2 separate regions of the Homo sapiens genome follow, and region 2 is reported to be linked to region 1. Evidence: microRNA targets listed by miRTarBase, many of them from high-throughput screens and not tested one by one. Region 1 holds a microRNA gene; the other region holds the end of a gene's coding sequence.

Region 1 (5,365 bases):
TTTTTTTTTTTTTTTGAGACGGAGTCTCACTGTTGCCCAGGCTGGAGTACAGCGGCATGATCTTGGCTCACTGCAGCCTCTGTCTCCCAGGTTCAAGTGATCCTCCTACCTCAGCCTCCCAAGTAGCTGGGATTACAGGTGTGCACCACCATGCCTGGCTCATTTTTTGTATTTTTAGTAGGGATGGGGTTTCACTTGTTAGCCAGGATGGTCTCGATCTCCTGACCTCATGATCTGCCCACCTCGGCCTCTCAAAGTGCTGGGGTTACAGGCATGAGCCACTGTGCCCGGCCAGGACTGACTTTCACATTGCCCAGGCTGGTCTTGAATTGGGCTCAAGCCATCTGCCCACCTCAGCCCTCCTAAAGTGCTGGGATTATAGGCATGAGCCACCATGCCCGGGCCTGGTTGGCAATCTTCATACATATCATCACTCATCAGTGCCAGGAGAGTAACACTGTCCTGACTCCATGGGGAGGGGGCCATTCTCCTGGACTCTGCCTTAGTACATGTCTCTTCCCTTGGCTTATCTTAATCTGTATCTTTCCCCTATAATAAACTGTAACTGTGAGCATAACAGCCTTCAGCGACTTCTATAAGTCTTTCTGGCAAAATTGACCGAGGGTGGTTTGGGAGGCCCCCTTTGTTGCACCTGGTGTCAAAAGTAAGAGCAGGCTTGTGTGGAGACTGCACCCTCAGACTCTGCAGGTTGACCTATGCTCCACACAGCACTGTCAAAAGGTCCCTGGGTGATTCTGAAGTATAACCATGTTTGGGAACCACCATGTTGGTCTAACCATGGTTACTGTCCCCATTTTGCAGACTGGTTCAATAATTTGCTCCAGGTTAACTGCAAATAGAAGGCAGAGCCAGGATTTGACTCCAGAGCACACCAGCCACCTGCTGCCCACCCAGACTTCCCTGGAAGACACGGTGACCTTCACCCAGTGGGAAGAGGTGGGACTGCATTCCCCCATGACCTTTCCGGACCCAGAGTGGCCGTGGGCTGCCAGGGACTCACCTGGCTGGGCTCAGCAGGTGCTCCTCACGCGGGCAGGTGCTTCCAGGTGCTGACAAAGGCCGTGGGGATAAGTGAGTAGGGCACTGTGGTGATGCAGTTCCATGTATCTGAAGTGGGGTCATAGCAGTCCAGAGTCTTACACCTCTGGGTCCCAAAGTAGCCCCCGACCACATAGAGCTTGTTGCCGGAAGCCAGGGCATGGCAGGACATGCGCTTGGCAGTCATGTCCCCAATCCGCGTCCACTGGTTGGTCTCACAGTCAAAGCGGTAGGCCGAGGCGGCTGTGAATTCCGTGTCACCTCCCATGATGAAGATCTGGCTGCCCAGGACGGCAGCGGCTGTGTACCGCCAAGGCTGGGGGCACTCGGCCTTGATCGTCCACCTGTTCTCCGAGGGGTCATAGCACTGGACCTTGGACACCATGTCCCGGTGGATGCTGGTTCCTCCGAAAACAAAGAGCTTCAGCTTGGCACTCACCACTGCGGCATTGCTGACGCCATCCCGCAAGGGGGCCACCATCATCCACTTGTTGGCCCCAGGGTCGTATTTCTCCACTTGTTTCAGGGAGACAGAAGGCGAGGCCGGGAAGACCCCTGCCAGGGATGTGTGTCCCCCCACCACATAGAGGCAGTTCTCCAGCTCAGCTGAGCCATGGCCAAAGCGGGCAATCAGCATGGGCGCCGCCTTGGACCATTCCTCATGTACGGTGTCGTACACCCAGACATCCTTGGAGACCCCGTTCTCGGAGCCCCTGCCCCCCGTCACATAGACCTTGCAGCCGATCGCTGAGGCGCTGAACTCCTTCCGGGGGCTGGGCAGGTCGGCCTTGGGGATGATCTCCTTGGCCTTGTGGTCCACCTGGTAGATCTTGTCACACATGAAGGTCTGGCCCCCCAGGATGAGTAGCGTGTGGCCCGCCTTGCGTGGCCGGGCACAGGGGCTGGTGACCACGCCATCATTCTGCAGGATCCTGGTCTTGCAGCGCAGGGCCTCATCCATGATAAGCTTGGTGCGCTCGTCTGCCATGAGGAGGGCCTCGCTGGAGACGGCCTCCTGCAGGCAGTCGGACGGCAGCAAGGCCAGACGCACGCTGCGGAGGAGCTCGGGCAAGTGGACCTTCCGTGGCTCCAGGTCGTGCTTCACCCACTGGAGGATGGCCTCGAAGACCACCCGCTCGTCCTCGGTCTCCAGCTCATCACTCGAGATGAGGTCCAGCAGTGTGTCCTTGGACAGGCTGTTGAAGTCCTCGCTCTGCCTCACCGTCTCAAAGTGCACCAGGCACATGCGCCAGGAGAACTCATACAGCCGGCGGCACTGGTGGGCGTCCGAGAGCAGCATCATGCCCAGGCAGTTGGAGGGGAAAAGGTTCTTCTCCAGGAACTCGGCGGCAGCATCCCGCACATCGTGGAACTGCAGCATGTCGCCTGCCTCCAGCAGTGACTCAGCGTTCTCCTCGTTGATGGCGATGCGTGAGGAGTAGGCAAAGTCCAGCAGCAGCTCCAGCACCTCCGGGTGCAGGTTGTCCTGGAAGTTGACAGTGTCATCCCGGCTCTCCCGAAGGCCATGGCTGAACATGGCCTCAAAATAGCGGCTAGAGGCGGCCAGCACGGCACGGTGACAGGGGAAGGCACGGTCGCCCGCCCAGAGTGTGACGTCGGTGAACATGCAGTGCTTGCGAAGCGTGTTGAGGTGGGCCAGCACACAGTCCGGGTGGGAGGCCTTGTGGAAGAGGGTGACGTTCATGGACCCCGTGCTGCTCCGCGACTTGCGGGTCTCATGGACACTGACCGACATGGTGCGTCAGCTTGTGGGGGAACAAGCCCACAGGTTAGAGGAGCCCCTCCTGCCCATCTGCCCTCTCAGGGCTCACTCTTCAGCACAAGCCCCCTTGTCCCCTCCCACCCACTCTCTGCTCACCTCTGCTAAACCAAGCCCCTCTCCCGCAACCACGTTGCCAAGGACAACACAGGCAAGAGTGGCTGGGTCTCACCCTGCCCTGCAGAAACTGGTTTTGTTCTCAGGGTATGAGCCAGCTCTGGGACAAACATCTCTGGCCTGCAGATGAGCCACCCCCTAGGCAAGCTCCAGTTGAGGCTGCCTCCCATGGTTAAGAGAACATGCAAACGGTGTTCCTGACTGAGGCTGGTGTCCGGGCAGTGCTAAGTAACTGGTGCCTTTGACCACATTCCACTCTCATGACAGTCCTCTACAGAAGCTTCTCTTGTAAGTCCCATTTTAGAGCTAGGGAAGCCACAGCTCAGAGAGGCCAAGAAACTACCCAAACTGCCACAGCCAGGATTCTCACATGGGCTGTCCGGCTCTGGAGCCTGATCTCTGTTCAAGGTGACTAATCCCTGCAGGGTTTGCTGTGGACGCCCAAGCAGAGCCTCACGTACCCACTTCCCTGCTCCCAGCAGGCTCTGCCCTGGGCCGGGCTCCAAGCGGTACTGGCTAGACATCCCCCTTGCCTTGGAACAAGAGCCGCCATCAAGGCCCAAGTGCTCAGTGGAGACATGTTCTCTGAATCCAGGTGTCTCCACAGGGCTCTTTACCTAGCTGGGGCAAGTGATGGCTTGGAGGTGGGGCCGCCAGTGACTCACCCTCGAGACCAACGCAGAGGCCCAAGATGACAGCAGGACATGCCGAACCCTAACGGAAGTGATCCAGATTTGCCTCAGCAAAGCAGAGAAACACGAAGCCAGAGCTTCCCAGGTCCCCCAGCTGACGCCAGGATCCTGGGCCAACGCAGCGCCTCCCCTGCCTCCCTTGCCTGCCCTTCTCCACCAGGCCTGGGGACCTGGCGCTCAGAGTGATGGAGTGATGGCCAAGAAACAGGTTCACTACTTGCTCAATCTAGGGGAATTCTAAAGCACTGTCATTAATGTCCAGTGAATGGCATGACCCGAGGCCCCAGTTCAGTACTTTGAACTCAAGGCTCAGCCAACAGGCGGCAAAACTCATATACCTAGAGAAAACATGGCCAACACCCTTGAGGCCATCTCGAAGACCACAGCTACCTGCCCCACTGACCTGTGGAAGGAGACTGTATTCACCAAGTCTCCCGATCAGGAATTCACTGACCACCTTGTCAAGACCCTCACCAGAGTCTCCATGCAGAGGACCTACGCTCCAGCTGTGGCTACAACAGGGTTTTTATACAAGAAAAATAAAGTGAATTAAGCCTGAAAAAAAAAAAAAAAAGAAAGAAAAGAAAACATGGCCAAAAAGCAAACTGCATTCCAGTATCTTGACCCCCTAAAAGCCTGTGCTGCTGTCTTCCTGCTGGTAATGGGGCCAAGAAAAACAAAAAACCCTAAACAACAAAGTTTTTCATTTTTAATTTTCAAAAGTATGTAACTCTCCTGCCGCCTCCCACTCCAAGTCAATTTTCTACTTAGGTAATAATCTGGTAAAGGTAGGAAACGATTTCATGCTTCAGTGAAATTGTAAATGAGTGTCCGGCTACATGGCTCTCTCTTGCTCACTCCTCCTCTGGAAAAGAGGCAGAGAAGCCACAAACTGACGAGATTAGAGCTAGCAAGGTCCCTGCTTTTGGGCTTAGGCAGAGAGGGCACAGGGCCAGACTGGCCTTGCTGCTTGGACCCCCAAGCTCCAGGTAGACTGTACACCGAGGACCTGCCTAAGACACTGCTGTCCAAACCTGCAGCCCACAGTCCACAGGGCTCCGAGGCTATATGAGGTTAGCCCTTCTGGGGGTTGGGGTGAGAGCACTGGACGCAGATCCAGGCTGTATCCTGGCTCCACCTCCATCCTGTACCTCACTATTATTTTCTTGTAAAGTGAGATCCCCATCCTACTCAGGCCTCCACAACTCACTTGTTGGCAACTATTTCCTGAGCACATCCTCGAAGCTGGGCCCTCAGATGCAGTGGCACGGAGCCTGAGAGACTGCGCTGACCGGGTCTGAGGGAAGCTTTGCCAACAGCCTGGCCCGTGACTGATCGGAATTGCCTAATCTGAATTCCAGACCCTGCGACATTTCCCCAAATCTTGCTGTGATTGCTAAACTCTCACTCCAGTTTCCTCACTCCAGACCACCCCCTTGGTGATCAGACAATTTCCCAAATGTGGCTCTGTCCCCTCCTGCCCCACCCCACAGTGTCAGGACATTTTAAGAGGCATTTGTTGCCTCTGGTCTGCAGACCGTGCTGGGGGAAACGTGGAGAGCCAAGGACCAGGAAGAATTCTAGTTCGAGCCCTGGGACTCCTAAGCCCATGCCCTCTCCACTGAGGTCACGTTCAAGGGCCCTGATGCTGAGGTTTGGCTTCAGTTCCATTGTCAACACACTTGTGCTTCCAAGGACCTCCCTGCTCTAGGTCCCT
Region 2 (5,365 bases), not on the chromosome of region 1:
ATCATAACTGTGGAGACTTCTATTCCTGATTTCTAAAATGACAGGGGGCAGAGACAGGGAAGGGATTAAAGGGCCAGGGGTTCTCTAAGCTCACCTGTCCTCAGGGCCCAGGGATCCTCGTGGAGGCTGCTGCTCTGTTAGAACCTGAGTTGAAGGGAATCTTAGAAAGTGCTCCCCACCCTGTGTAAGCAGTCTGGATTCCCCAAGAGTGGCTGGCAGAGGGTAGGCACTGTGGGTTGTAATATCCCAGTGTGTGAAGGGAAGCTTCAGAGAAAGCCAACTAGTTTGTCTTTGGGACGCCAGCCAATCTCATCATGACCTCAAAAATGGAGGCTGTGAGCTAGATGAGTGCATGAGTTAAATCAAAATTTCGGATTTTAAAAAATCTTCCCTAGCCCAAATACCTGTAGTTAAAATCCTCCTTAAAACTCGCATCTTCACAAATACATTGGAGTGTGCAATCAGTCCTTTCCAACTCACAAGGCTAAAGAAGGAGAATGTGATGTCCCAGCATGTTTAGGGTCCTCTTGGTCATCTTTAAAGCGGTGTCACTACATCACGTGGGGGAGGGCTGAGCTTGCCTACTTTTTCTTCTTAAGGGAGGAAGAAGCCGGAGAGGGGACTAGGATGCCTGAAAACGATGGGAGACTGCATCAACCTCAGCCTCTGACTTCTCTTCCCCCGTTTCGTGCTCCATCCAGCCCACTGAGAGTCTCAGGTAGGCGTGGGCTTGAGCAGAGGTGGGTTCAGATCTGTGGAAACAGATTAAAGCTCAACAGGTTAAAGCTCAACAGATCAAGTCAAGTCCAGGTGCCCGCAGAAAATCCACTGCTACAAGCCCTGGTTTCTACCACACCCCTCTCCTGACTCCGAAGCTTTCGTTGGCGGTTGCCTTCCCAGACAGGAGAACCCAGGTTTCACTCTCCTGTTTCTTCGGCTTCTGACACCTTGAAAAGAAGCCTAGGCGCTCTTACTGTGCCTGCCCTGCGCTGGCCACAACCTAGTTCATCCCCTGCCAACATCAAACTCCAGATCCTGGGTAGAGAGGGCAGCCAGAGAAAAGATCCCAGAGTGACTGGAGTTCCTTTATGGTTGCCTCTGAGGTGCAAAGGATGTCAGAGGGATTTGTGGCAAGCAGAGTCTGAGCCCGCCTACAATCCACACGACTCTTTGCAGGGAGTAGAGGGAGAGAAGCGGGAAATCTCCCTGGCTGGTATAATGACCTGAGCCTCCCTTGGAAGCAGGACCTCGCCTGGACCTGCCCCGGGGGCTGACGACTTTGGCCTCGGGCGGGGGGGTGGGCACAGGAAGGCGAGGGAGACACACTGCTCGCAAGGATGTCTATGCCCACTCTCGACTGAAGCGGGCAAAAGGGAGAGAAACGCGGCGCCAGCCTTCAGTGGTTTAGTCCGCGGAACTTGGCGCTAGGCAAATTCTCTGTGGAAACAAGCGCCCTACCCACCCACACAGGCTGAATAAGGCGGCAGAGGCTCCTCTCTGCTTTGCCATATGGAGGAGAATGGGGAAATTTATTAGCGTGGTTTTACCCGCAAAGTGCTGAAATAGCCAGTATACTGCCTGTCTCTCGTGTGTCTATATGAATCTGCAGGTCTGTGTGCGTCCACGTTGGAGGGGATGGGTGATGGGTATTGAGTCCCTACCCCCGCCCCAAAGGAAACGCACCGTGGTCACCATCCCTCTGTGAGCCTCTGTGCACCTTGGTAGCCTTTTTCGGAGGGCTCCGCGCAGCGGGGACTTCAGCGGGCTAGGCAAAGCTTTGCTCAAAGAGCAATCGCTGGCTGGAGTCTCGGGTTGTGTGCAGGAGGGGCGGGGGCCGCGGCTCTGTTCTGCTCTGCTCTGCTCTGCTCCGGGGCCCGCGCGCTCTCCTGCTCCAAGCCTCAACCCTGAGCGGTTCTAGCGCCCCGCACGGTCCGCGCTGGGCCTTCTCTTCCGGGTCTGAAAACTCTAGGTCTTGGTTGAAGAATTTCGAGCTGCTTGGCCGCCTTTGCTAGCATTTTGCGCTGCCAAGAAGACCCCAGTACCCGGGGTCGAGAGAGCAGCCCTGGGATGGGACTATCCGGCCAAATTTTAGCCTTTCCTCCTGGCCACCTGTGGCTACCCTTCTTCCAGATGAACTGTAACTTTTCCGGGGCTTGTGATATTCCGATTCTGATGAAATGTGGAAGAACTCCACTGCTAGGGTAAAGCCCCGCAAGAACTTCAGGTGATAACTGACTAGGAACTGGGGGTGGGGGTGGCGGAAGCAGGGGCGCCTCCTGCGAGCACTAGGGTGGTATTCGTCCTTCTGACTCCCGCCCTCAGGCGCTCACCCCCCCGGCTCACTTCATCCCTGAGCCCCCCAGCTCTGCCGTGCCCCCTGGCCTGGCGAAAGGTGGCCTAAATAAGGCAGAATTCTACCTGAAATCACATCATGACATTCCCCGATGATGATTTTCTTCACGTTCAAAGCCCCGGGGCCAGGGCGTGGACCTACGGTCTGGGTTTGGCGGTAGCGGAAACCTCCAGGGCCAGGTGAGGAGCAGGGGAAAGTGCGGTTTGTATAAAGCATCCTCCCCACCTTTCTTCCCTAGACTCCGCTCCTCAGCTAAGTGTGCGTGCCGACGCGTTATTCTCCTTAACGCCAGAGCTGGATTGAAGCACCTCAAAATTCGATGTGCTTGGGATATCCTGCTTCCAGAATTTCGATATGTGGGGTCAGGGGAAATTGATATCGATAATGCAGACAAAACTGAGGTACAGAGGGAATCCTGAAGTTTGGCAGCAGAGCCTACAGAAGGCTTGAAGAACTATCCCAGCCCTGGCCCGCACCCAGGCCAGGTGGGGAGGCTGCCCTGGCCTGGAAACTCTTGTGACACAATTAGGGATAACAGCTAGTTCATGTTCCTATTGAAGATGGGGTCCCTTGTGGTATGCTCTTTCTTTTCTCTTGACTAAATTGTACATCTCTGATCATTCTGCCCCTACTCCATTCTCACTGCTCTTGAATCATCTCGATTTGGGGACTTAGGGGGTTGGCTGGGTCAGGAAATGATCATCTTTGCATCCATGTGTTGGCTTTGGGACTTGTTATCTGTATCTTGTATCTGGCTATGCAAGTGTAAGAAGGCTCAATCTGCTGCCTCTACTTCACCCCTGGATGGAAAAGTCGAGAACAGAGATCCTGGAATGAGCTCCAGGGGAATGTCTAAAAGTGGAGGAGATAAGCAAGACAGAGGACTGCTGAGAACTTTCCCACTCTGGCCAAGGGACTGAGGTGTGTCCTAGGCTCTCTGACTTCAGCACCTCTCCTCAACTCATTCTGAGAACTGGCCACCCCGCCTGGATGCTGGGTCTGCCAGAGACCTTGTGTCCTTCACTTGCTCAGTGCCGAAGAGATTGGCACTGAGACTGATCAGGATTTCCCAAAGAAATCTATTTGCTATAAAATCCCCCCAAAGAGCTTTTAGCAACTCCAGACATTTCACAGTTACAAGCAGGAGGACAGGTCCTGGAGAGAGGTTTAACTTTTCACCTTTAAAAGAAATAAACAAACAAAAAATCTTTGAATTGCCCATCCTAGTAGCAGTGTCAAGGTTTACTACATATTTTCCAGCTGCAGTGGGATGGGGAAACTGCCTCACGACTCTCAGCAGCTTTGGGGAGAAAGAGCTCATCTAGGCACCTCCAGTGGCCAAATTGCAAAGGAAAATTTTTGCGTGGATGAGGGAATGGAGGATGCAACTTCATAGTTCTATCCGTGGCCACATGTAGGCCAGGAAGTCCAAGTTCTGATCTGGGCTGTGCCTCTGCTTCACCTTGAAGAAGTCACCTCTTTGTTTGGCATGTTTACAACCAGGGCCCTGGCACTCTAAGACCCAAGCTTCCAGCTCTAACCACTGTGTCATGTCTGTCCTTTCCTCAGCAACATTGCAAACCTGTCCTCTACCCCATCCCGGAACAAGGAAAAGTTTGTGCAGGGCTCTGGGCCCGCGCTTCGCGTCCACATAGTGATTACAGCTGTGCCTAGATTGACCCCGCCTGGCATCACTGCCTTCCCCATTCCAACTCTGAGTACTCTAGGAACTCATTTCGTCCATACTGTGAATGGGGAAACCATCTGTTGCACTGGCCTAACAGTTTCTATGGCCTGCTCCACTCTCAGGCTACTCAGGGTCTCAGAGGGCACTTTCAGTGGCAGTTGGCGCTAGAAATCTCTTAATTAGAAGCCTCTAAACCCAGACGCCCATCTCTGATGTCTGTAACAAGATGGCTCTGAGGTTGAGCCACTTCCCCTGAAACTCCAGCCCCACCACCTTCAGCTGCTGCATTCTACAGTGTCCCCGGGACTAAGGTCCGGTTGTAGATCTCTGGCCTTAACAACCCCCAGCAAAGCCAAGCGGCCTTTACAAACCGTAGTAAACATTTTATTTACAAATTTAAGGCGTCCTAAGTGCCTTTGAGCCACGACCTCTGGGGCGAGTCAGAGAAACAGTTTAGTCAAACACCTCACAGTCGAACCAGCCTGCTTCCGGAGAGAAGTGTTCGGCTGGCTAGCAGGACACTGAGACTCCCCTCTGCTTTGGGCAGTGTCCGCTGCAGCCAGTCGGAGCAGCGTGGGGCGAAGCGTGAATGTCGGGAGGTAGGCTCCACGCTGCGTCTCCTGCCCTACCAAGTCGCCAACATACAGTAAGCACAAAACCCAGCCCATGGTTGGGAGGCTGCACGCAAGGCCCGGATCCCCTCCGCCCTAGTACAGTCTATAAGCAGCCAAGCGCGCCTTGGGCTGGCTCGGGGCTTTTGGGAGCGCTGCTGGCTGTGGGCTGTGTTGCAGGGAGAAGCTCCGAGGCGCCGCCGCCGCCAAGGCTGCTGGCGCAACCCGCACTGGTGCTGCTGCTACTAAGACTGCTGGCGCTGCTGAAGCTGAAACTATTGCCGCCGCCGCCGCTGCTCCCACCACTCCCAGCACTGCTGGCGGTAATGAGGGCGCCAGTGACCGGGGCCTTAATAACTGTTGTTTGGTGCAGAGAACGCTCACTCCCCTCAGTCCGCTCCGTGTCGCTGGGGGCCATGTCCAGGGACTCGGAGTCGCTGCTCTCGCTCTCAGCCTCGCCTTCAGAACGGCTGGGGCTCCTCTCGTCCTGCTCGCCATCCGCAGCCGGGGCTCCACCTGATGGCTTCTCGCCAGCCTCCTTGTCCTTGTCCTTTTGGGCCTGGGCCTCCTTGGAGTGCCGCCACTTCATCCGCCGGTTCTGGAACCACACCTTCACCTGCGCCGCGCCACACCGGGAGACAAGAAGAGACACCGAGATGAGACCCAGGTTTGCTCCTATCCGACTCGCGTGCACCCTCAAGCCACCTCCCTGAG

What was found. Region 1 holds the annotated microRNA hsa-miR-1276 (UAAAGAGCCCUGUGGAGACA, at 3,553-3,572, opposite strand). A microRNA usually pairs through its seed, bases 2 to 8, with sites in the 3' UTR of a target mRNA and lowers its output. Matches are read on the target gene's strand: a 7mer-m8 pairs with bases 2 to 8, a 7mer-A1 pairs with bases 2 to 7 and ends in A, and an 8mer does both.
Region 2: miRTarBase lists HLX as a target of hsa-miR-1276. The part of its 3' UTR that is shown has no 7-base or 8-base seed match.

Annotation. Positions count from the first base shown.
Region 1 is chr15:85,766,996-85,772,360 of GRCh38, forward strand. MIR1276 (microRNA 1276) reads right to left here and starts at 3,583; the gene lies at 3,501-3,583. It overlaps KLHL25 (kelch like family member 25), which reads right to left. Exons shown (of 3, transcript NM_022480.4): 2 at 1,022-2,825. The coding sequence starts at 2,815. The coding sequence ends at 1,046. RefSeq lists enhancers at 791-1,565, 1,566-2,339, 2,340-3,114, 3,115-3,887.
Region 2 is chr1:220,884,097-220,889,461 of GRCh38, reverse strand. HLX (H2.0 like homeobox) reads right to left here. Exons shown (of 4, transcript NM_021958.4): 4 at 4,403-5,267. The coding sequence ends at 4,758. Among named protein-coding and RNA genes, the nearest start is that of HLX-AS1, 6.6 kb to the right of the region's middle.